Linked DNA regions of Homo sapiens. The protein of the gene in region 1 interacts with the protein of each later gene in a pairwise test. Each region holds a gene or a part of one and is shown on either strand. Other genes may lie near its edges. The genes, in order: SLC7A14, FAM20B, ERMP1 and CBLIF.

Region 1 (5,062 bases):
AGACGTATATTTAGTACATAAATGCAGAACCCTGACATGCTTTACTAAATTTGCCAATGAGTGACACCATGAAAAATAATAGAATTAGTGGTAATGACAAGAAGAAGTACTTCTGCATGATAAGAACAAATCTTTCCCCATGCAGGTAGAGGTTTGAAATAGCATAGATCATTAAAATCCACAGGTAAGCTTCAAACCTAGATTTTGCTAGCTACATGTGCCTGGCATATAGTGTGTATTCAAGAAATACCTGATGATTGACAGAATGAATGAATTGGAGGAAAATGAAATATTTATTCAACAATTACTTGTGGAGTGCCTATTATGTACTATGGCAGATATTGATATCGTAAGTCAGATAAAAATCCAGCTCTTAAGAAGTAGAGGAAATAGAGCTTGGTGTGGTGGCATGTGCCTATGATCCCAGATAGTTGAGAGACTGAGGGAGGAGGATCACTTGAGCCCAGGAGTTCAAGGCTGCAGTGAGCTATGATCACACCACTGTACTCCAGCCTGGGTAACAGAAGAATACCCTGTCTCTTAAAAAGGAAAATCAAATAGGGGAAATGGGATATATAAATAAAGAACAATAGTGAATGTGTCAGGTGAGATGACGGACTTGTAATGTGCTGTGGGGGGTCAAATATGAAGAAGGCCTTCTTCCTCTGGAAAGGTCATAAAGAATGTCACACTTGTGTTGGAACTTGTGAAGTGGGTAGAATTTTATCAAGTAGAAATGAGAGAAAGGCATGCCAAGCAAAGGATCGGCATGAATAAGGTCTACTAGTTTGTGGTCCTCTGGCTAAGAATTTGTGCTGTGCCTCCATTAAGAGAAAGCAAGGAGCTAGTTTGCCTGGAGCACATGATTTATGCATGACTTATACATGCAACAATAAGAAATAATGCTAGGAAGGCAGGTGAGGGATCACTCACAGAGAGACTTGAATGTCACACTGAGCTGACTGGCTTTCCTCGGGTGAGAGAGTGGGAAATAATTGGGGAACTGACGAAAGTGTGAATCCAGGAAGGCTGAACTTTAAGAAAGCTGAGACGGTGGCTTCCTTACCTATGCAAGGAACTAACAAGCCACATATACACTCCAAATTGATTTAACAAATTAAAGAGAAAAATAGCTGTACTTTGAGTCCTGTGTCTGCATTCATCATTAACCTAAGAAAATACAGCCATTTAATACGTGGACAAGCAACACAATTTAACAGCCACTTTAAAGTTTTCAACAATAGGTTTCAACAACTAAACCTAACAACTTTTTATATCTATCTAATCTAAACAGTAAAATCTCAGCTCCAGGTTTTACTGAGCTTGAGTGCTACTTTTTTTTTTTTAGACAGAGTCTCATTCTGTCACCCAGGCTGGAGTGCAGTGGCATGATCTTGGCTCACTGCAACCTTCACCTCCCGGGTTCAAGCTATTCTCCTGCCTCAGCCTCCCAAGCAGCTGGGATTATAGGCGTGTGCCAGTTCTACTTCTTAGTAACAAACTAGTAGCTAATCAAATGCCTACATAATGGTCATGATAAATCTGTTTAAATAAATGGCGGGCGGAAGGGAGTTGTTGAATTTAACAATCCATCCTTCTTCAGAATCTATAGGTCAGCCAGAATATAAATCTAGTAATTATTGAAAAACAAAACACAAACTCCTTCAAAGAAATCTCTCTCCTCTATTCTGCTGAAAAGGGTTGGTAAACCTGACATCCTTTCTTTTATTGGAAGACAAATCCAACATTTGTTAGACATCCAACATTTGTTGGAAGTCTACCTTACAAGAAACCACCTCTTATCTGCAACATAAACAGAAGCTACATCAGGTTGAAAATCCACATAGAAGACTGGAGAAAATTGCCGTCCCCTTTCGCACTAGGTTTTACCAGGGGCCCAAGATGTCAGAGGAAAGTCCGCGGAGGGCCAAACACAGGTTTACCTAATTATGAATCTCAGATTAGAATGTCTTATTGTGTGGAAAAGTCAGAACTCAGGAAATGTGTCTGAAGCCAGAGCGGGGGTCTGCTTACGGAGTCTACGCAGCGGGTAGGGGTCCACTATTGGAGTATAAACCTCAGGTCAGTGAGTAGTGCAGAGGTGTCCCTAACTTCCAATGGAGGGAAAGAGAGGAGAGCAAAGGAAACACATCCAGAAGTCGCCACGAGGGCTGTGTGCCAGCGCTCCATTTTCATGCTGTTTGGAACAAGACGTGTCAAGGAAGATGTTTCTATCCAAAGTCTTCATGGAGCCTCTGCTTCCCCTGTACCTGTGTAGCTCCCTGAAACTGAGGACCCACGTGTCTGCAAAGACCTCTGGAGATCCTAAGAGAGAGAGGCACCAGCAGGTAACCAGTGGTGGCCTGGCCACGAAAGAGTATTTGAAATTCAACAGTGAGCAAGTGCAGAAACAGCATCCCAAACCGCAGGCCCCACCACACGCAGGAACCAGAAAGCTGAAGTTTCACCAAGGAGTTTACTTAGTATTTCTCGCTGGGAATGGGGATGGGTAGCAAAAAGCCCCTTTCATGTACATAATGGTTGGTCCTATGTCCTACTTTTATTTTCTCTAAGAGTTTTAGAAGAAAGGCTGTTTTAATTTTTTTTTCTCCTTAAGAGCAACTTCCTTTTTAAAATGCTTTCCTCTTCTTGTCCTGCTTGAGTAATGCAGGCATCATTCTGAAATCATTCTGAAACAGCTAGGCAGTCGCCTTTTGCCAAAATTACTTCTCTAAGAAAATAGAGTGTTCTTTTTTTTAGGACTTAGAACCCACAAGGGGTGAGTGGAAGTTTTGTAGCCCATCAAAGGTGAATATGTGTTCTGCAGTATCAACTAAAACAGTGTACAAAATCATTAAACTGGGCCGGGCGCAGTGGCTCATGCCTGTAATCCCAGCACTTTGGGAGGCCGAGGCGGGTGGATCACCTGAGGCCAGGAGTTCAAGACCAGCCTGACCAACATGGAGAAACCCCATCTCTACTAAAAATACAAAATTAGCCAGGTGTGGTGTTGCATGCCTGTAATCCCAGCTATTAGGGAGGCTGAGGCAGGAGAATCGCTTGAACCCGGGAGGCAGAGGTTGCAGTGAGTCGAGATCACACCATTGCACTCCAGCCTGGGCAATAAGAGCAAAACTCCGTCTCAAAAATAATAATAATAATAATTTAACTGTGTTCTGCACACACAGAATTACAAAATCCCTATAGGACTTTCACAGATAGCTTTGGGCTTAAGGTCTTCGGACAACAGGTAGTTCTAATTTCTTACTCTTTGGGACATTTAGTACATGTTGGTACACATAAGGAAAGAAAATGGCTTATATTAGAGCTAGGAAACAGGGGCAGCCTGGATTTTTATGGTAGGAACTCACTCTGTGCTTTTTTTTTTTTCTGTTAAGTTTTCTTGACACTGACTTCGGTAACATTGGCTAAAGGGAATTGTGAGTCATGTGAATTTCACCTGCAGTGCAGACTTTAAAGGACTGTGTTCATTCTGATTTGGGGATGAAGAGAATGTTCCATGCACATCTATTGATTGGTCTTGGCAGTTGCTGATACGCTTGTCTCATTCACACTCCCAAAGGCGAGGATTTACCCTAGAAATCATAAACCCCCACTTTCCAAAGCAAAGATGCTGTTAATGTTATGATGGTGCATAAATACCTCAACTGTCTGGGCTGAGAGAGGGGGCTGCAGGTTTTTAAGAGAGCAGCTATAGTCCTCATTCCATGTAGTCACATCATCTGATGACAGGACTCCACATTCTAGCTTTTCTCACTGTGGAAAAGAAACGTTACTGTTTAATTAATATCCAAAGTTATAAATACAGCTTGTAAATTTTACTAACTTGTTTCTTTTTCGTTTCGTCCTTGAGAAGTACAACTTGCATTTACAGATGGTAATTCCTAGTGTTGTTCTCTGCTATCTTTTTTTGGTATGAAATTGCTGTATTTGTTAAAGTTTGTTCGTTTTGTGGTTTTTAATTCCCATTGGTGTGCTGTACAATGTAGTGTATCATGAAGAAAGAAATAATATGCAGATGTATTATGAAATGTGTTTTATTTTCAAATGTGTGGTGTTGACAATATATTGATTTATCAAGATACTAAGGGAAAATTCTAAATTTAACAAAATGTGTATATTTTAATAAATGCATAAAGCTTTATTGTGTGCCTTTAAATTTAAAAATGGGTTTATAAAGAAAGTCAGAAACAAAAGTGTCTTACTATAAAATATCCATAGTAATGTAAAGCTTTTACACGAGACTACCAAAAAAAAAGAAAGAAAAGAAAAAGGAGCCTTCCCATATTTTGTTAACCTTAACCAGTATCTGAAGTCTGTTACTTTTTTTCCATTCTTAAATGGAGATGAATAAGTGAATTTCGCCTTAAGTGTTTCAATTGTCCTTTGTAGAAAAGCCAGATAAATGAGTTCACTTTGAATTGCATTATTGTGGAAAATTCATTTTCAGAATAAAACATTTTAAAAAGTACAGCTAATCGACTAATAAAATTTAAATTTGAAGAAAGTCAGTGCCATCCTACCCCTTTAAATTTACTTTACTTCCATGAGGAGAACATGAAAGTTCCACTTTAGTGGGCTCTCAGAAGAACCTGACCTGGCGCTGTCTCCCTCTCACGTTCTTCTAACAAGGGTACAGGGCTCTCTCAGGGACCCTGCTCACTACACTGCCTCATTAATTACCCCTCTCCCGGTGCAGTCCTACTCAAGCTGCAGCCCCCCACACCCTCTGCACCATCTTATGTCTAATACAGAACATTCAGTTCATTGCCCCCATTTATTTTAAAGAACAATTAGAAGAACAGTATCTGCCTACAGTCCCAAACCAAATTACCATAGCATTGATGGTGGCTTAATTGATCTTACTTGTTGATGGCGCAGGTGGTGATACCTGGAGAAAAAGGTAGAGGGTGTAGCAGGGCCACATATTTTCCATATCACATGGGATGCAAAGAAACTGCCATATCTTTATTTCCTGCAACTCCCTGATCTCCCTTGCAATGGTCCACCTGCCTCGATAGCAGGGGAAGAAAAACAATCC
Region 2 (7,034 bases), on another chromosome or scaffold:
CCCCCCAATGTGCTGTGATTACAGGTGTGAGCCACCACGCCCAGCCGGCTAATTCACTTTCATTCTACACACACACACACACAAACACACTCATCCTACTCATTTGATAAATATTGTATAAGGGCAAACGTAAGACTATGAAGTTGTTTTGGGAGAAGAGATATAGATTCCACAGAAAAAAAGTGAGGTCTTAATGTAAAGTCTTCTTTCAAGAATCTCCTCTCCGGTCCATGCCTCCAAGATGACAAAGAAAAGAAGGAACAAAAGTCATGTCAAAAAGGGCCACAGTTACGTGCAGCCATTCGCTGCATGAACTGTGCCTGATGCGTGCCTAAGGACAAGGCCATTAAGAAATTCATCATTCGAAATATAGTGGAGGCCACAGCAGTCAGGGACATTTCTGAAGCAGCGTCTTCAATGCCTATGTGCTTCCCAAGCTGTTTGTGAAGCTACATTACTGTGTGAATTGTGCAATTCACAGCAAAGTAGTCAGGAATCAATCTCATGAAGCCCACGAGGACCGAACACCCCTACCCCGATTTAGACCTGTGGGTGCTGCCCCACGACCCCCACCAAAGCCCGTGTAAGGAGCTGAGTCCTTAAAGACTGAAGACAGACCATTCTCTGGAGAAAAATACAATGGAAATTGTACTTAAAAAAAAATCTGGCTGATGGTGGAGGAACATTTACAGAAAAGCATGTTGGTGTGGGGGTCTACAGATCATGTGATAAATCTCAATGTATGTGGCTGCCAAGGAACATGAGAACACCTGGCCTTAACGCTTACTACCTTACTAGAGGGTCCTACAAGCCACCAATGAGATTCCAAGCCTTATTAGAAGTGTCCCCTTGAATCACCCTCTGATTAAGTGACAAGCTCACAATACTACCTCTGAGGTCATAGAGAAGAAATAAATACCAACCTCTGCTCATAGCAACTAAAAGTGAAAGTTATGGTAAAAGTAAACATAAGTTTCACTTCTTGTGTTTCTAATTTAATGGTCAAATCAGGTTCTTATGACTTAAGTAGAATGTAACATGCCTTGTAAATGCAAAGCACCACAAAGGAAATGCTTAGTAAGAATGCTTCATGCAGAGGACTAACAACAAAAGAGATCTGAGGCAAAGGGGTAGGATTTCTTAACTGGTATAGAATTATATTTATGCACACAATCTCTTTGCCCTTGATCCTGAGTAGGAACTACAAGGATCCTTTAACAAAATACTTTGGTAATTATTGGTTTGACTAAAACTCTGAAGGTTTGGTGAGTATAGGAGGTAAGACTTGAATTTGAATTTTTTGTAGACTGTCTGCAAAGACAGACACTAACAATTTATCCTATCAAGAGGTGGAGTCAGGGCCAAACATGCTGGTTTACACCTGTAATCCTAACACTTTGGGAGGCTGAGGCAGAAGGACTGCCTGAGCCCAGGAATTCGAGACCAGCCTGGGTAACACAGTGAGACCCTGTCTCCATTATTAAAAAAAAAGAGAGAGAGAGAGAGAGAAAGAGGTGGAGTCTGTTTTTCCTCCCCTTGAATCTGGGCTGGCTTTGTAACTTGTTTTGACAATAGAATGTTGTGGAAATGACTGTGTGCCAGTTCTGGGCCCTGGTCTTAAGAGACCTGGCAGCTTCCACTTTCACGGGATCTAGCTACCATGTAAAGAAGCTCAAGCTAAGACTACCAAATGCCAAGTGATCTATATGGAGAGAGGTCCAGCCAACCCTTGGCTATCCTGGTCACCCCAGGTGAAGTGCCAGACATGAAGATGACACTTTCAAGGACATTCCAGTCCCAGTTGTGGTCTGGCAGAATGTAGTCACTGTTGTGACCCCAGCCTATACCATTTGAGCAGGAACACGTGAGACCAGATGACCTATATAATTATAAGAAATAACAGGCTGGGCGCAGTGGCTCACACCTGTAATCCCAGCACTTTGGGAGGTGAGATGGGCGGATCACCCAAGGTAGGGAGTTTGAGACCAGCCTGGCCAACATGGTGAAACCCCATCTCTACTAAAATACAAAAAATTAGCTGGGCATGGTGGCACATGCCTGTAGTCCCAGCTACTTGAGAGGCTGAGGCAGGAGAATCGCTTGAACCCAGGAGGCGGAGGTTGCAGTGAGCCGACATCACGCCACTACACTCCAGCCTGGTGACAGAGCAAGACTGTCTCAAAAGAAAAAAAGAAAAAGAAAAAGAAAGAAAGAAATAACAAATCATTGTCTTAACCCACTATTATTTTGAGGTAGTTTGTAAAACCCAACATTCTCACATCTGTTCTGCTCCTATCAACTCCTTTTGGGGATAGTAAAAATACCAGGGGAGAAGACATAGGGAAATAAATTACGTGACTAAAAACAATTATCTCAGGGAGGGAGTAATCACTAAATTAACCATTAAGTGCAAATAAAAATTGGTTTGATAAATTGTTAGGTCATATTTGTAAATTATTATTAATGGCTTCTAGGAGCAATACACTCATTATAAAAGTTACATGTCATTTATATTTTTCTGTTTTCATTGTATATATTTAGAAAGATACATAATTAACAAAGTCTCTTAAAGGTACCACAAGAAGAAATAGATTCTCAACTGGATCATTTACTAAAATCCACTTGCATACTTCAGAGCCCTACTTAGACTTATGCAGAGCAATCAAGGCTAACCTCACACATTCACACACTGACACATGTCCGGTTTATAAAGCCTAACTTTTGTACTTCAGCCAAAACATAAATAGCAAAAATCACATCTTTTAGTGCAAAAAAAGTTAGACACACACACGCTTTTACCGTGGGCTGTCTGGTATACTGCCCTTTTGATTTTTCACTAGCAGTGACAGTAGGGCACTGTGCATATTATTATTAACTGTTATGAGTTTACACCCCGTTCCCTAGAAATAAATGTCTCTACTGATGGTTAGTGGCAGTGATAAGTAAAATTAAGAGCATTCAGAAGTCTTTTAGTATTGTGTGACAGTCAAGATGTCCAGAAAGTCAAAACCTCCAATATTAAACAGCATTACATGTTTATTATCTCAGTAAATGCTGAGTACCCTGGGAAAACCAGCCCACTCCTGCTTTGCTGCCTGCCACAACAGCATGCTATTCTTCCTTTCATCTTCACATGAGGGTCTTCAACTAAAAATAAAAACTAATACTAAGTAATAGCATTAATCAGTATCTATAGATATTTTTTCTTCTTTTCTGTGCTAATTATCCACTTAAGAAATAGCTTCTTAATTCACCTTCTTATTTTAAATATAAGCTTTCTGTAGCAGAGGGGTTAAAAGCATGTCCTCTGGATTCAGAATGCCTAGGCCTGGATGCTTCCTTTACCACCTAATGTGGGTCTTGGGAAAGATATTTAACTTCTGACCTCTCTGGGTCTCAGTTTCTGCATATAAAAAAATGAAACAAGAATACTATTACCTAACTCACAGGGTTGTTAAAAATGAATGAGCCAGCTACTCGGGAGGCTGAGGCTGCAGTGAATCAAGATCATGCCACTGCATTCCAGCCTGGGTGACAGAGCAAGATCCTGTCTCAAAAAAAAAAAAAAAAAAAAAAAAAAGAATGAGACCTCTACATGTGTTGTGCTAAGATTAGTGCCTGGATGACCCACAGTAATCACTTGCTAGTCATTATCACCATATCAAAAACCCAGATGACCTCCAGAGAGGAGAAAAATGACAAAGAAAACCCTCATTGGAATCAATATACCATAATGTTGTCTTCTCAGTTACATAGTGAGGGGCCAAATCCACACATTGCATTACTAAGAGTTTAGTAGTAATTAGTAGTCTTGTATTTCTGAGCCAAATTCTTGCCTAAATTTGAGAGGTAGATAAGACTAGGCAAATAGATATCTTCAGAGTGAGTGTCATGCAAAGCAGAAGACTGGGAGGCTGTCACTAATTTGGCCAACCTGTTTCCCTTCTCTACAAAGTTCAATTCTACCACACTCAATGTAACTGAAACAGATGGGAAGCATGAACTTATCCCACTTCACAAAAAAAGGCTAAAATAGAATGCCTTTCACAACTGTTTTCAGTTTGGAAAATTAGTTCTGTGTTTTAAAGATGACAGCTTTTCATGTGCTAAAGCCCTTAAGATAAGCCTTAAGAGTAACTTAAGAGTACAGGTGTAGAAAATCTAATTCTTACATAATCCAAATTGGTCCAAGTGTCAGGTTTTCCTTACTGTTTTCACTTCCATTTAAACATTTATTTACATCTGTAAACTCAGAATCACTTATATGAAATTCTCTAACAAGTTCCCTCTGAAGGAAGGCAACTAAAACCATTACCAGGCATTAATGAAGCATTAAGGTAGTCTTTCTTGCTGGATGTGAAAGTAAAAATGAAATAGGCAATAACTGAATAATTTCAATAAGTGAACTGAAAAAAAATCAATCTCTGCAACCTGTCCCATTTAAACCTTGATTTAGGGCAACCCTCTTCCTTGAAAAATGAAAAAGAAAAAAACTTTAGCTCATACTGCTAGCGAGTTCTGTTCTAAAAAACCAACACACGCAGTAATCTTGACACTACGTGGAAATGAGTAACAATTTGCATTTTCCTTTAAATAAGCCAGGTATAATGACACTTCCCAAGTTCCAGGTATTTCACAGCACAACTGTCAGTACAGAACCACCATTTAAGGCTAGATTATAGAAGGTAATTCCTGTATAGTGTTGAAATACGGCATTACAAATATTATAACATTTTCCTTCAGCTTTTCATATGCTTTCCATCTTTAGTGTTCAATTCACTACAGTTCTTGGAAAACCACATAAACTTTATACAACAATAGACCTCGCATTTTTAGCCTTATGTTCTATGGTACGTCAAGCTGACAGCCCACACAGGAGATCACTCTCAGAAGCAGGAGAACCTCAAACAGATCTGTGCTGAAATTATGGCTAGGTGGCTCCAGGCATGATCCCTCTGTTATACTATGAACTCACACACACACAAACACACACACACACATTTTTTTTTTTTTTTGGCACATCTGTCTCTTCTAATATATTGTGTTTTTTGAGGATGGGATAGATTTTACTCACGCTTTGTACTTCCAAGTAACTTAGCACTGTGCAGGGCCTGTAAGAGGCATCTGATAAGTGTTTGTGGAATAAAAGGAGAGAAGGGCAAAGGAGAAAGACCTTTAGGGTTATAAGAATTTCTTCTAAACTGGCAACTCTCTGGTTTAAAGACTGCCTCTTTCAGAGACAGGGGGAAATAAGTCCTACAATGAATTCAAGTATACAGTATATAAAAGATGCAGAAATAGCGAATATGTATACCAATTATATACACTCAATTTAAAGTTGCCACCTTCTGTATATCCTGCTTCCACCTTTCAAGGCCACTGCTATTGCCAACCTGGTTCCTAGTATCGGCTGGGATTAAGAGTAAAGACAATTTGGAAATGCTAAAAGGAAGAAAGGAGGTTGTCTAACACACTGCCCAAGGATGATACAAGACAGGGCTGAAATCAGATCTTCAAGTATTATTGGCAGTGCTTTCTGAAACAAGAACCCACACGAGTAAGTACTTCCATATTATTTTGTTTTTTTTTTTACAGAAAACTACAGGAACATAAATGCACCTATACAGAGCACACGTTCACTATCTACACCAACGATAAGAAACAAACAAACAAAAACGTCCCTGGGCAACAAAAATAAGTGGTTACAAAGTTCATACCCTAAAACTTGGAGAAGAGCAGGTAGAACATAACTAAGCCAATTTAGCTGTTTTACATTCAATGTCAGGAAGCTCCTACTCCACAGATAAGAAGCTGCAAATTTAAAAGAGGGCAGCAAGGATACTAACAGCAGCAAAAGAGCAGCTTTCCACCACTGAAAGAAGACAAAGACTGACTACTGAATCGACTCAAGTAGATTCAATAATTCAAAAAGCACAGTGGACAACAAACTACATTTTTCGATCATCTCATAGCCTCACTCAACTACTGCCAGTATGCTAGTAATAATAACCAAAGCATATATTGTAAAAATTTTTCCACAAAAGGTATAGCTAAAATAAAATTTTCACATATAATACCTTACTCCCCAACATTAGGTAAATGAGGCATTGCTATGTATATAAAGCAGAAAGTTAACATTTGAGAGCATGGAATGATAGACTTCACTGCCTCCCTCTGTACTTGGTTCTGTCCTCTTTACACATTCATAATTTCATATTCCTTGACCTGCCTTTATAACGTGCCCAAGTTAGCACCCTCTTCTCTAAAGGGGTTATCTTGCCAGAAAGTACAGACCTTAAACACACACCAAAGCTCAAGGTCTCTTCTGCATCAGCTTACATTTTTCTCTTATCTCACACTGGGATGACAGACGCACCCATCTGTCATGTAGATTCTTTACATCCCAAGCTAGGCATTTCTTCTTTTGTTTTTGGTAAGAAAGACCAAATCAGAAGTGAGATCTTTGCATTATTTTCTCTTCTAGGCAGCTCGAGCAGTCATGCTGACATTGTAAGTTAGTCAGAAGCTGGTTTCAATAGCAAAGTAAGCTTCTGTTCTGCAGCCCAGGCCTATGTTAAAGAATTCATTAGTACTTGGGGTTACAGAGACAGCTGAAGGAAAACAGGAAGATATATGTAGGTGTAGAAGAAGGAACTGCTGGAGAAGTACTCTTAAAAAGGGATAACTCCCCTCTTCCACCGTCAAAATAAGGGACAAGGGCAGTCAGGTCAATGCTATTGACATGGCCATTGCCAAGAGCTCTAAGTTCTTCTATTAATGCAAAAACACTGGCTATCAATCCAACTGCCCAATTAGCCTAGCCAGAACAGACTGTAGGAGCAAGGTTGTGAAGCTGCACTTGACTGGAACCTGCACAGGCTACTGCCAGGCTCCAGGTGGTTTAGAACACCATATAATCACAGAAGCAAATAACACACCTCTACAGAATATTTTGAACAGTAATCCGAAACACATTTTCTACGCTTTTTTTTTCTTTTGACAAAAAGAGGAACTAAATAATTTAGTATATACAT
Region 3 (7,034 bases), on another chromosome or scaffold:
AATACTTGAAAATCAATTAATGTCATCTATTACATCAAAAGGCTAAGAAAGAAAAATCACATGCCCATATCAATATATGCAGGAAAAGCAACTGACAAAATCCAAGACCTATTCATGATAAAAACTCTCAGTAAGCTAGGAATAGAGGGAACTTCCTCAGTCTCATAAAAAACATCTACCAAAAAACGTATAGCTAACAACATACTCAGTGGTAAGAAACCAGAAGCTTGCCTAGATCAGGAACAAGGCAAAGATGTCCCCTCTCACAACGCCTTGTCAAAATCAAACTAGAAGTCCCAGATAATGTAACAAGTCAAGAAGTGGAAATAAAAATTATAGATATTAGGAAGGAGGAAATAAAACTGTCTGCAGATGATAAGATTGTCTATTCATAGAATCTTAAAAGAATAGGCTGGGCGCGGTGGCTCACGCCTGTAATCCCAGCACTTTGAGAGGCTGAGGCAGGCGGATCACAAGGTCAGGAGTTTGAGACCAGCCTGGCCAACGTGGTGAAACCCTGTCTCTACTAAAATTACAAAAATTAGCCAGGTGTGGTGGCGGGTGCCTGTATTCCCAGCTACTTGGGAGGCTGAGGCGGGAGAATCACTTGAACCCAGGAGGCAGAGGTTGCCGTGAGCCGAGATCGTACCACTGCACTCCAGCCTAGGTGACAGAGTGAGACTGTCTCAAAAAAGAAAAAGAAAAAGAAAAGAAAATCTTCTTAAAGAATAAACCAAACAAAAACAAAAACAAAAACAAAAACAAATCTCCTAGATCTAATAAGTGATTATAGCAAGGCTGCAGGATATGAGGGTAATAATCTGAAACTCAGTTGCTTTCCTGTAGACCATCAATGAACAATACCATTTATTAATACATTAGCACCCCCAAAAATAACTACTTAAAAATAAATCTAACAAAATATATATAAGGATTCTATAAGGAAAACTACAGAACTGATGAAAGAAATCAAACAAGATAAAAATAAATGGAGGGATATTCCAACACGGATAGGAAAAGCCATTATTGTTAAAATATCATTTCTTCCCACCTTGATCTACAGACTCAATACAATCCCAATCAGAACTCCAACAAGTTATTTTGTGAATATTGACAAACTGATTCTAAAGTTTACATGGAAAGGCAAAAGACAAAACACAATTCTGGAGAAGAAGAGTTGGAAGACTGATACTACCCAACTTCAAAACTTAACTATATAATTACAGTGATCATGACAGTTGTGGTATGGGCAAAAGAACAGAGAAATCAGTCAATGGAAAGAACAGTTTGGCAGTTTCTTACAAAGCTAAACATAGGCTTACCATATATAATATCCAGCAATCACACTCCTAAGCATTTACCCAAATGAGTTCAAAAACCTGCCCAGGAATCTTTATAGCAGCCTTATTCAAATATGGATAACTGCTGTACATCTACACAACGGACTATTCAGCAATAAAAAGAAATGGCCTATCAAGTCACAAAAAGATATGGAGGATCCCTTAAATGCATACTTCTAAGTGAAAGAAGTCAGTCGAAAAAGGCTACATACTCTGTGCTTCCAGCTATATGATACCTGGAAAAGGCAAAGCTACAGAGATAATAAAAAGACCAATGGTTGCTAAGGAGAGTGGGAAGAAAAGAGAGATAAATAGGTGAAGCACAGGGCATTTCTAGATGGTAAATCTATTCTGTATGATACTGTAATGGTAGATACATGGCATCACACATTTTTCAATACCCATAGAACTACACAACACGAAGAATGAACCCGAGTGGGAACAACAGGCTTCGATTAATAATAATATATCAGTGTTAAAACTGGTGCATCAGTTTTAACAAATGCACCATACTAATGCAAGACATTAATAGAGGAAAATCGGGGGGCAGGATATGAGAACTCTATAATTTCTACTTAATTTTTCTGTAAACTTAACATTGCTCCAAAAAATAAAAATAATTTTTATTTTTGAGACAGGGTCTTGCTCTGTCACCCAGGTTGGAATGCAGTGGTGCTATCAGCCTTGACCTCCTGGGCTCAAGTGATTCTCCCAGCTCAGCCTCTCAAGTTCTCAAGTAGCTAAGACTACAGGCATGCACCAACATGCCCAGCTAATTTTTTTTTTTTTAATTTTGTAGAGACGGGATGTCACTATGTTGCCCTGGCTGGTCTTGAACTCCTGGGCTCAAGCAATCCTCCTACCTCAGCCTCCTGAGTAGCAAGCATAAGCCACCATGCCTGGCCTATTAAATTTTTGTTAAGAAGTCATAACCAGCTTTGGCCGGGCGTGGTGGCTCATACCTGTAATCCCAGCACTTTGGGAGGCCGAGGCAGGCAGACCATGAGGTCAGGAGTTCAAGACCAGCCTGACCAACATGGTGAAACCCTGTCTCTACTAAAAATACAAAAATTAGCCAGGCATGGTGGCACACACCTGTAATCCCAAATACTCAGGAGGCTGAGGCAGGAGAATCACTTGAACCCAGGAGGCGGAGGTTGCAGTGAGCCGAGATCGTACCACTGCACTCTAGCCTGGGCGACAGAGCGAGACTCCATCTCAAAAAAAAAAAAAAAAGAAGTCATAACCAGCTTCAATTGATTTTAGAAACATCACAGGCTCTTCCTAAGTTGCTGGTTCCTGTGATATATCTGAGGGAAAAACATACATGCCACTTATTAACAAGTTTAAGAAATAAAGGAGGGGAGAAAAAACTATTATATGACTTACCTGTTGCTTCAAAAGTCAATTTTATAGAATCCCAAGGTGTCTGTTCTTTGGATATGAGTCGGAAATGAGGAGGATTTCTTGGAGAAACTTCTGGGGCAGGAAGATACCAGTTTTTCCTATTTAGAAAGGAAGCTTCAGTTTTAGGGTGCTTTATTATTTGATGGCTATCTGTAACTCACAGAACTGTTCAGCATATATGAACACATTTTTGGGTATGAAAATAAACTGACAGACATGATAAGCAATGCCAACTCCAACAAATTTAGGTTATTTTGTAATAAAACCTTCCCAATGTTAAGAACAAAGGAGTAACCTAGGTGATCTTGATTCCACCACCCATCCTATTTCTTCTCATCCAGTCCTTCACTGCCAAGCTATAAAATCTTCCCAGAGAAAACAATTTTTTTTTTTCTTTGAGAGACAGAGTTTTGCTGTTGTTGCCCAGGCTGGAGTGAAATGGCGCGATATCGGCTCACCGCAACCTCCACCTCCCGGGTTCAAGCAATTCCCCTGCCTCAGCCTCCCGAGTACCTGGGATTACAGGCATGCACCACCATGCCCGGCTAATTTTATATTTTTAGTAGAGACACGGTTTCTCCAGGTTTGTCAGGCTGGTCTCGAACTCCCGACCTCAGGTGATCCACCCGCCTCGGCCTCCCAAAGTGCTGGGATTACAGGCATGAGCCACCGTGCCCGGCCACAATTTTTGAGATAGATGCTTATTGGCTATTATATTAGTTAGAAGGGCCACCTTTTCTAACCACTCAGGTTTCTAGAGAAAAGATTTTTAAAATTTGAAAAAACAAAACTACTCTTCTGAGTGCTTTATTCCACTAAAAAAAAAAAAAAAGTTTCATAATGATAGAAAAAATAGTACAAACACCACTGAACTTGTATATTAAAGGATGGCAGTTTAAATGATAAGAGTACTGATATGGTGACAAGACTTGAGAACAAACTAACCTTAAGCAGAAAAATAATGAACCAACCTGATCAGAAAGTGCACTGGAAGATACCAAGGAAAACCACAAAGAGGTGCATTCTCCTCACAGTGAGCTCGGATACTATCATTGATCTCAGGAATGTGAGGGGTTATGTGAGAAATTCCAGTATAATCAAACCCATTGATCCATATTCCAGAGTCCCGTTTAACTGCATTTCCTTCCAAGTCATGGAATGTTCTAGTCATATGCTGAAAAAAAAAGACTAGTGAAAAAACTGTTTCAACTAGTACACCCACATTCCCACCCCAGATTACAAAAATGGAGTATGACAATACCAAGAAATGATGTGGATATGGAGCAAGTGAATAAGACACTGAGAGTTTCTAAGGTACTGCTAGCGTTCTTTATTTTAAACTGGAAAATAGATATATAGATTATTGTTTTATTGTATCTTCCAAATATATTTAGGATTCCTATAAAATGTTTTTGAAACTTACTATTTCAGACTTAAAAGACGTTAATGTTAGAGCTGCTTTTAGATAAGGATTTAAAACAAATACATCCTAAGCACATATATACATACACACTCATTTCCCTATTAGTGTTTTATGAAGCTAATTCATGTGCAGAGAAAAGTGGGAATTGCAGCTCACCACTAGATGACAGCCTTGTGCCTAACAGAATTCTATGAAAAGGCACCGTGCTCCATTTGAAATAACTTTATTCACGGCAGAAACCAGCCTGAAGAATACCAATCAGGAAAAAAACAAACAAAAAAAAACACTGCATAGGGCAGGAGCCGGCAAACTGCAGCCAACAGGGCAAACTGTCCACTGACTGTTTTTATATACGAACCATTATTTGAACATGGCCACACTCATTTGTTTGGGTATACTCTGTTGCTGCTTTCGCTCTGTTTCACTGCAACAGACTGTATTGCTGACAAAGCCCAAAATATTATCTTGTCCTTTACAGGAAAAGTTTGCCAACTTCTGGCACAGTGGAAGAGAACCCCCAAACAAATCAGAAAATGACTTTTTAAAAATAAAAATCCTGCTTTTCCTAAGTATTACTGACATAATTATAAAACTTAATACATCATGAAAAACACACTGAACCTCCTAAAAAAAAATCCGTTCTTCACTAAAGGTTTTACAAATTGTAAAATCTCACATAAAATTTATCACAGTGTCCTTCAGGACTATAACAAGGAATTGTTATTTGGCCCCTTTTCAAAACCTCCTAAGTGTTTTTAATTTTTTAAGTCCTTGAATAATTATCTAGGTATAATTCCTCTGGCATTTCTGTTTGGCTAGATTAGGTTAGATGTGACTCTTGCCCTTAAGGGTATATGTTATCTTGAAGCAGGATCTTTCACTTACAGAGTATAAAATACAAATAAGAATTATGCAAAATATACAATATGTTAGTATGTGTTCACAAACATGAGAAAGGGATGGGTATAAGGCATAAGATAATTTGTGTAGTATGAGAACTTTTAAAAACAATTTAGAAAAACTAACAATTTAGCCATCTCTAACAGAGATGACTAGAATTGAGGCTTACTGCTTTATAGTACCAGGTCTAAAAAATTTGAAGAAAAAGTTGAGATCTAAAATAAGTCCTCAAACTGGCCAGGTGTGGTGGCTCACACCTGTAATCCCAAGCACTTTGGGAGGCCGAGGTGGGTGGATCACCTGAGGTCAGGAATTCAAGAACAGCCTGGCCAACGTAGTGAAACCCTGTCTCCACTAAAAATACAAAAATTAGCCAGGCGTGGTGGCGAGCGCCTGTAATACCAGCTACTTGGGAGTCTGAGGCAGGAGAATCACTTGAACCGAGGGGGCAGAGGTTGCAGTGAGCCAAGATCGTTCCACTGCACTCCAGCCTGGGCAACAGACCAAGACTCCATTTTAAAAAAAGAGAAAAGAAAGTAAGTCCTAAAACTCACTTTATTAAACCCTTTCTAAGTTATAGTTTCACTATCACATATCACTTTGAATGTTACTTAAGATTAATTTTACTAGCACTTCTAAACATCAATTTTATTTTGCCAGTTGACAGTTTAGATTTTACTCAGCCTGTATACATTTTTACAATCTATATTTCTAAAAACTCATTATTCCATAATAAATATTTGCTCCTGTTTTTCCAAATAGATGCAGTTTTATAATTTGAATAGTAATAAAAACAAGCAAACATTTCCAATTCAGTCTCCTGGGAGATATATGTCTAGCTGATAAGAATGCCTCTTGACAGTCAGTCTTCTCCTCACTGCCTTACACACAAAAAAGGTGAGTATGACTAAATAGGTCAACAGCAGAAAAGTCAGCTGCGCTTGCTATTCACTACTGAAGCTCAAAACACACAGGGCTTCCTTTCCAGATCTCAAATACCTCATGCAAAACTGCTCACCTGAAGAAACACTCTCTTTGGCTTCGGATTAGCAGGATTGGAGCTATATGGAAAAAATGTTCCACTGCAAACAAGGAGGAATGTAATTGCACATACCAAAGTTAAAGTTAGCATGGTTTTTTTTGTGCTCTTGGCAAGGTAGATGAAGTTAATCTGAAACACAAACCACAAACACAGAAATATTACAAATTCATTCTAGTGGTGGAAAGGTGTTTTTAACTAACTTTATTTTTAACAGTATTACCTAACAGCCCCTGAAGAAAATTTATCAGCAGGTGCTAGCATACTCTAACATCTAGTAAACAAAGCACTAACTCTAGGAGATTTCCATTGCAGGTGAGAACCTAGAAAATGACAGATGCCTCCAATCTGCCATGATGGTGCCACCTTTTTGGCATGCAGCCAAAAACCAAGAGGGAAAAAGGAAACTCAGGACTGTCGCTGTCCTTAATGTGCGAAAAGAACAGAAATGTAGATGTAATGGATTATTCATTAAATAACCAGAGATAAGCTTTAAGCTTAGGCAGATCTGTTTGGACAAAACTCAAATTCCACTCATAATGCTTTAAAATATGTCAAAATACTAAATTCATCTCAACTGGCATAGAGATGTACCTTCAAGACTCTGCCAGTGGACCTGCATAAGAGGAAAAACTGCATTACAAAGTAATATTATCCCTCTAAGTGACAAATTAACCAATGCCAACACAATCAAAACAATAAATCTAGGCAGTAAATGTAAATGACTCAGTCTCAAGGTTGGCATCTAGAAAATCCTAAATATTTTCAATCGTAATGAAATCGCTGAACTAAAAACTGTAAAGGACACACACGACTCACAGAGTATGTCCACAGATCCCTTACAGGGTCTGAAGAAGCCATTTGGGGAAACTTTTATGTGAAATCTGAAATTGTTCTAAGAAGCCACATTTTAAATATTGTGAAT
Region 4 (7,034 bases), on another chromosome or scaffold:
TGCCAGAAGAACTCTGAGGCGACCTTGCCGATAGCCGTCCGCTTTGCCAAGACCCTGCTGGCCAACTCCTCTCCCTTCAATGTAGGTGAGTAGGTCACCACTACCCCGAGCTGGGAACATCAGAGGCATCGTGAACTGAATGGTGGAGCTGGCAGGGAAGTGACAAAGGAGAGCGTCCCATGGAGGAGGAGCTAAGGATGTGAACGTGCCTGTGGATGGGAGATATTTACCAGATGTTTGTTGGGCAGGTGAATTGAGGAGTAAGTGAAGGAAGAGGGGGTAGTATTATGTAGAAACAAGGACAATTGATAATACTTGATATGTCTGGCAGCTACAGAATCTCCGCTGGGAACAATAGTAATGCCATTCAAGTCAGAAGTTCTTCCCAAATTAAATATGAATGTCTTGCTTCAGTTCTCCTCTGCATCCTCTCTTTAATCACTACTGATGCTCCCACACTCCATTCTTTTCGATGCTTCTCCTCATTACATCCAAATATCCTCTCTCCATTAAACAGCTACTCTCGGAACCCTAACTCGTGATATTTCCCTTCATGGCAACTCGGGGACCACCTTGCGTCTTTGTTCTGCAAGCATATGGCTGCTTGTGAATAGAAGCTTTTCCCTCTACAACATCATGTCCTCCTTCTGTCCCCTTCTATGGATAATGATCCTTCTCTGTGGGGGCCACTGTCACAGCCCGCATTCATGATCACCTTTTCTCCTCTGCCAACTCTCTAAGCAATAGTATTATCTCAGGTTTTCACTCCCTTATGCATGCCCCATCAGCAACCTCTCTTGTTTCAGTTTCTGTCAGACAAACAGGTGAACCACTGCTCTAGGATCCTCCCTGGGGGTTAAGAACAGACTGGTCTCCCTTTCACATCTGGGACCTCACACATTTCTGGGGCATCTCTGCCTCCAAAAATTTGGACTTATTTACTTCTGGTTGTCAGTAACACTAGCACCCTTAACGAAGTTATGCAACTTTCAAATGGAGATTTGGCCCTGCTGCTTACTTAATTTTTCTGAGCCTCCATTTTTTGTCTCTTAAATGGAGATGATTACAGGTACTGTTTCACAGGTTGTTCTGAGGAGCAAATAAAATCATGGAGCCAGAATATAATAAGCACACAATAAATGTTAGCTGTTCATATTGCTGTGATGGTGACTATGGTGATCTTATACCCTCTGTCATTCACAGACACAGGAGCAATGGCAACCTTGGCTCTGACCTGTATGTACAACAAGATCCCTGTAGGTTCAGAGGAAGGTTACAGATCCCTGTTTGGTCAGGTACTAAAGGATATTGTGGAGAAAATCAGCATGAAGATCAAAGATAATGGCATCATTGGAGACATCTACAGTACTGGCCTCGCCATGCAGGTAAACACGTGCTGGATGCTCTTGGTTGGGTTCCTGCCAATAAGCCTGGATTGCAGAATCAAGAGGCCAGGCTTCTACTAACATCTCTGTGAAAGTCCAGCTAGTATGACCTGAGATATATTCTTTGTGGTGCCTGGGCCTCAGTTTCTCTACTGGTAAAATGCAGGTAAGTGTTAATTCCTCCCTACCTCCTATGTAAAGTGTGAAAACAAATCTATATGAACTTGTTTCTCTTTCTTGGGAAAAAAAATGAAACAAATAAATCAAGAAATATATTAATTTATTATTAATAATGATCAGTTTATTTGTAATAGTTACAGACTATTACAATTTTGATGTATAAATAATAAGAATATTAAAGCAGGCCCTCTAAAAATATACAATTTTCTGATGCAATCTTACCAGCCAAGTGTTCTTTTTCAGTGTTTTACCTTGATCTAAAAATAGCAAGTTTATACTCAAAATGATTAAGGAAAATAACCTAAAGTTGACCCAGCCTCACAAAAACCCATAGTAAATGGTAAAGCAGATCTATCTGTCAGCCAAGTCCATATTCAATTCTGTGCTTTCACAGCATGCATTCCCAGGCTTGGATTCTGTAAGATGTGTTTGGTATTCATAGTTCCAAATCCAACAACCCACCCTACCCTAGTTGATTAGGGCAGCAGCCTCCATAGAAGACAGATGCACCAATGGTGGTGGGCAGAAATAACCAACTAGAATCAGAAACTAGCAACCATCTGTGGCTGAATCCTCTAATCCCAACTAAGAAGTTTGAGCTCCAGTGTCTCAAAATGTCCTATGGGGATTAATAGGACCAGGGACTCTTCAACTCAGAAAGCCCACTAAAGGGAGAATCATGGAATGGTGATGCCAGCCCTAAACCTAACATAGTTGCGGACTATTAGAAAGAAATTGTCTCCTGGGGAAAACAATGGAGACTAGTATTGAGATTTCATACATTAAAAATTAGAAAAGGATATAAGCAGCCTAAGAATTGGTTCATGTTAAACATAAGAGCAAAAAAAAAAAAATTTCCACTTCAATGGACCACATATAGAAGTGACTAATAAAAATAGAGTTCATTTCTATGTCACAGTCAAGGAGACTTTGTCATAGAACAAAACCCTGTTTTTTCCATGGCTGAATTTTACAAGAACATTCCCAGTGCTCTGGTCTAGAAGCTTTTTGGAAAGAAAAAGGCAGTCTGGAAGAGATATAAAAGATGGTTTGGGGATTTTTTTTTTTTATGTGTGACTCTCTAAAAATAACCTTGCTTCAATTTATCACCAGACAGTGAAGTGTTTACTTTTGCTAACTTGGTTTGTGAATTCTGTTTGGATTTTATCACCTGCCAAGTACACTTTGATAAGCTGTACCTGGGAATTAGAGCTTTTCCTATCAAAAGGCAGGACCCTGTCTACATCCAAATACCACAGGCCATGTGGATTTCTTGTCAGAATACATAATCTCTCCCTACCCTTTTTACTGCCTCTATCTGGAACTTATTTAGGCATCCTGAAATCTGGAATCAATAGGTGTCTAATATATAATATTTTCCTAATCTAAAATATTCTGATATAGAAAATCAAAGGGCTCTGGAACTATCACAATTTAGGTTTGACTCCCACACCTGCCACCATCTCAGACAAATATTGAATTTCCCCAGATTTTATTTTCCCCATAATAATAAGGTTGCAATTAGGTTAAATAAAATGTGGTATGCAAAAAAATGCATGCATAATGTAATGCTTAACAATTGTTCAAGATCTGTCTCAGCAGAGCAGTGATGCTAGTAAAGTTCCTTTTCAGCCTTTGTTCACCTTCTTCCAAGATGTCAGTACACTTCCAGTGGCCCAGGCCACACTCTTCCCTACCCAAAGACGCTCATGAGGCATTTCCTCTGTTCCAGAACTTCTCATCTTTCTTCCATGAATATCCTATTGCTTTCAAGTTTCCTCTGATAGGCGCTTATCTTGAAAAGGGATCTGATAGGCCAGGCGTGATGGCTCACACCTGTAATCCCAGCACTTTGGGAGGACGAGGCGGGCAGATCACTTGGGGTCAGGAGTTCAAGACCAGCCTGGCCAATATGGTGAAACCCCATCTCTACTAAAAATACAAAAATTAGCCTGGTGTGCTGGCAGGCACCTATAATCCCAGCTGCTCAGGAGGCTGAGGCAGGAGAATCACTTGAACCCGGGAGACGGAGGTTGCAGTGAGCCAAGATTGCACCAATGCACTCCAGCCTGGGCATCACAGCGAGACTCCATCTCAAAAAAAAAAAAAAAAAAGAAAGAAAGAAAAGAAAAAGAGAACTGATAAACTTCTTGATGGAAAGTTATTAATGACGTCTAACCACTTAATGTGTTATCCTCTCTAGAGTGTTGGCATTGGTGATGTGTAATCCCAATGAATATACCTTGCTTAGTGAAATTTGGGAGGTGCATATGACAAGTGGACAAGATATTGTTGCTGAGGAGCACCCACCTGATGGCCCTTAAAGCAACTGCCTTGTAAAGTGGCCTCTGTCCAGAGCCATGCTTCATAGATGCTGAGGTTCAGTGATGGTTGTCCCTGTCACAACTGCCCAGTTGTGCATACTGACCCTAGCTGAGACAGCCGTTTCTGACTCCTCTCTCTCTCTTCTCCCATTTCCTATTCCAAGCTTCAGGTGAACCAGTCATTAACAATCTCAGCCTATTAACATGCTCTGGTGGCCATAATCGCACTGTAAAGGAAGGGAGGTGGTAATGACAGCTTCCACATCACACATCACACATCACGAAATGCTTTTATACATTAGCCCCTTGGAACCGCAAATGACTCCCCCAACAATAGACAGAAGTTATTATTTCTATTTTATTCATGCGATAGATAACGCAGCAAAATAGGTGAATGGCTGAATGGCTTGGTGTATTACTCAAGACTCATTTTGCAAGTAACAGAAACCCAAATCCTTTTAGCTCAAGAAAAAAATGAGGATTTACTATTCACATACACTGGGAAGTCTAGGGCTGAATTAGGTGGTTTCAGGAATAACCAGAATAAAGGGCTCAAATCATGATATCAGGAGCCACTCTTTTTTCATCGTCCAGCCCTGATTTTCCTCATTCTTTCCTGCTGCAGGGCTTCTTCAAAGTGGCTGAGAAAGATGGTCACTAGCAGCTTACCGTTTATTTGCATGGTCCCAGTTGAATAACCTTAGCAGGAAAAAAAAATCTTTGGGTGTCCCAATGTCTGTATGTCGGGGAATGATTCTGATTAGTACATGTGTCCACCAATCACTGTCATCAAGGGGATGGTGACCACCATCAGCCCAGTCCAGGTCATGAGTCCATCCTGGGCCAGGGTTGTGGAGCCTCTGAGAGTCCTGACACAAGCACAAAGTGAGGGAAAAGTCCATCAAAGAGGGCACATGGCAATATGAAACAAGGGGTCTACTCCGTTTATGTGGCTAGACTGTCCTAGGCTAAAGCTCCCTCTGGAGCCCAGCTCTCACCCTCACTCTACATTCAAGAGTCGTTCGTAAATATGACTGCCTAATAGTGTTCCCTGGATCTGATCATTGCACAGTTCTGTGTCTGCTGTCTGACAGACACTGTGCTAAGTGGTGGGGACATAGCATTGAAGACAAATGTTTTCCAAACCTTACATAGCATTGGCTTTGCATTCTGGGTGACTACGTGATCACCATGATTAGTGATCAAGTTTATCTCTTAAGACATGTAAGAGCCAACTCTCAGCTATGCCTAATTACTCTTTCTCTCTCTTTCTGTCTTCCTTCCCAGGCTCTCTCTGTAACACCTGAGCCATCTAAAAAGGAATGGAACTGCAAGAAGACTACGGATATGATACTCAATGAGATTAAGCAGGGGAAATTCCACAACCCCATGTCCATTGCTCAAATCCTCCCTTCCCTGAAAGGCAAGACATACCTAGATGTGCCCCAGGTCACTTGTAGTCCTGGTAAGACATCCACCTCTCCTTATGTCATAAAGCAGCAACTTATGCCAGAAATGACATGTGGATCAATGTTAAGTGGCATATAGGCTTGTAATGTCCATTATTCCCATGTGGGCAGAGTACATCTGACTCCCAGTCCTTAAGAGTGTGTGCTAGCACACAGACATACCTTCCTGCACTCAGAACTCAGCCCCATATCTACTTCATTCAGCATATATTTACCTAGCTCCTACTATGTGCAAAGCATTTTGTGGGATACTAGAGGTAGAAGAAGCTCCATGGTCCCAGCTATCAAACAACATATAGCTTCATTTATTCATTTCACAAATGTACCATCAAACACTATGCATATCTTATCATATCTGCCTTTCACAAAGTCAGAAGACAGATGTGTAAACAAAAACTACAATATTTGGGACAATCGAGTAAGTATTAAATAGAAGTTAAAGCCACACACAGTGCAAATGCCAAAAAGAAAAATAGTGACCAGTTGTTGATTTTGTTTGGGAGGCTTCAGAGAAGAACAGAATTCATATTTAAATCGAGCCTTAACGATCTAAATATGAAAGCTCGATGCACGCAATATATCAATGAGATGGAGTGGAAACCTAGCATGCCACTTTTTAATTAAAAATATCTTTATTTTATCCAATTATGCATATAATTGAAAGACACTAAAAATTCAAACATTACAGAAATATGCATTTGGAAAGTGGAGGTCTTGCATAAAAACTTATTACTCCAGAGATTACTAGTGTTTGGTATGGATTCCTCAAACTCTTTTTTTTTAATAAAATGCTAACACAAAGCATCATTCCTCTTGCATTGCATGAACTTCCTAAGACAAGAAGCAATTAATAAGTTTCTCGTCTATCTCAATGCAGAATGTGGAGACCAAAATCAAGCAAACTGATCCCAATCCTACCAAAAACTACCACATTCACTCAACCCCTTAGGCTGCTTCCCAGTGATGTCCCAACCTTAACAAGGTGGCCATGGAGTTTTTGCCGGAATTCTATGCTAGTTGTCCAAGTACTTTGTTAAATGGTATGAAACTCACTACTTTCTCAAAATGTCTTCTGGGGTAAGTTGCCAATAACAGAGATTTTGCACCTATGATACAAACCCCATAATCTTTGACAAATGTGGCCTCTTTGCCCTTCACAGATCATGAGGTACAACCAACTCTACCCAGCAACCCTGGCCCTGGCCCCACCTCTGCATCTAACATCACTGTCATATACACCATAAATAACCAGCTGAGGGGGGTTGAGCTGCTCTTCAACGAGACCATCAATGTTAGTGTGAAAAGTGGGTCAGTGTTACTTGTTGTCCTAGAGGAAGCACAGCGCAAAAATCCTATGTTCAAGTGAGTATTACAAATGTCATTCATCATTCTCTCAAGGCCTGATCTGAATTCCCATTTTTTATCCATCCTGTTTTCCTAATTTTTTTCCTTTTGATAACAGATTTTTATTTAATAGCGCTTGAGCAGCTTTCAATCTAATAAATAGGTAAGGCTCTCATGAAAACTTAAATCATATAAGTCAACATATGATGAAGTTTTAAAAACAAAAATTCAGAGGAGATTCGAAAGTCCATTGCAGAGTAGAACAGGCAAAAGAGACTTTGTAGCTTTGAAACACAAAGAATAGGTACTATTTAGGAAGATGTGGGAAGAGG

What was found.
Region 2: the proteins of SLC7A14 (region 1) and FAM20B interact in binary tests that used the Homo sapiens proteins (3 or more experiments, as listed by UniProt).
Region 3: the proteins of SLC7A14 (region 1) and ERMP1 interact in binary tests that used the Homo sapiens proteins (3 or more experiments, as listed by UniProt).
Region 4: the proteins of SLC7A14 (region 1) and CBLIF interact in binary tests that used the Homo sapiens proteins (3 or more experiments, as listed by UniProt).

What each region holds. Positions count from the first base shown.
Region 1 is NC_000003.12:170,459,014-170,464,075, reverse strand, and holds the end of SLC7A14 (solute carrier family 7 member 14), read left to right. Parts: 3' UTR 1-4,528; downstream 4,529-5,062. UniProt on the Homo sapiens protein: Imports 4-aminobutanoate (GABA) into lysosomes. May act as a GABA sensor that regulates mTORC2-dependent INS signaling and gluconeogenesis. The transport mechanism and substrate selectivity remain to be elucidated.
Region 2 is NC_000001.11:179,028,860-179,035,893, reverse strand, and holds part of FAM20B (glycosaminoglycan xylosylkinase), read right to left. Parts: intron 657-7,034; exon of another isoform or gene 216-656; intron 1-215. UniProt on the Homo sapiens protein: Responsible for the 2-O-phosphorylation of xylose in the glycosaminoglycan-protein linkage region of proteoglycans thereby regulating the amount of mature GAG chains.
Region 3 is NC_000009.12:5,795,088-5,802,121, forward strand, and holds part of ERMP1 (endoplasmic reticulum metallopeptidase 1), read right to left. Parts: intron 6,242-7,034; coding exon 6,089-6,241; intron 3,922-6,088; coding exon 3,719-3,921; intron 2,846-3,718; coding exon 2,730-2,845; intron 1-2,729. UniProt on the Homo sapiens protein: Within the ovary, required for the organization of somatic cells and oocytes into discrete follicular structures.
Region 4 is NC_000011.10:59,835,494-59,842,527, reverse strand, and holds part of CBLIF (cobalamin binding intrinsic factor precursor), read left to right. Parts: coding exon 1-85; intron 86-1,203; coding exon 1,204-1,385; intron 1,386-5,176; coding exon 5,177-5,354; intron 5,355-6,518; coding exon 6,519-6,720; intron 6,721-7,034. UniProt on the Homo sapiens protein: Promotes absorption of the essential vitamin cobalamin (Cbl) in the ileum. After interaction with CUBN, the CBLIF-cobalamin complex is internalized via receptor-mediated endocytosis.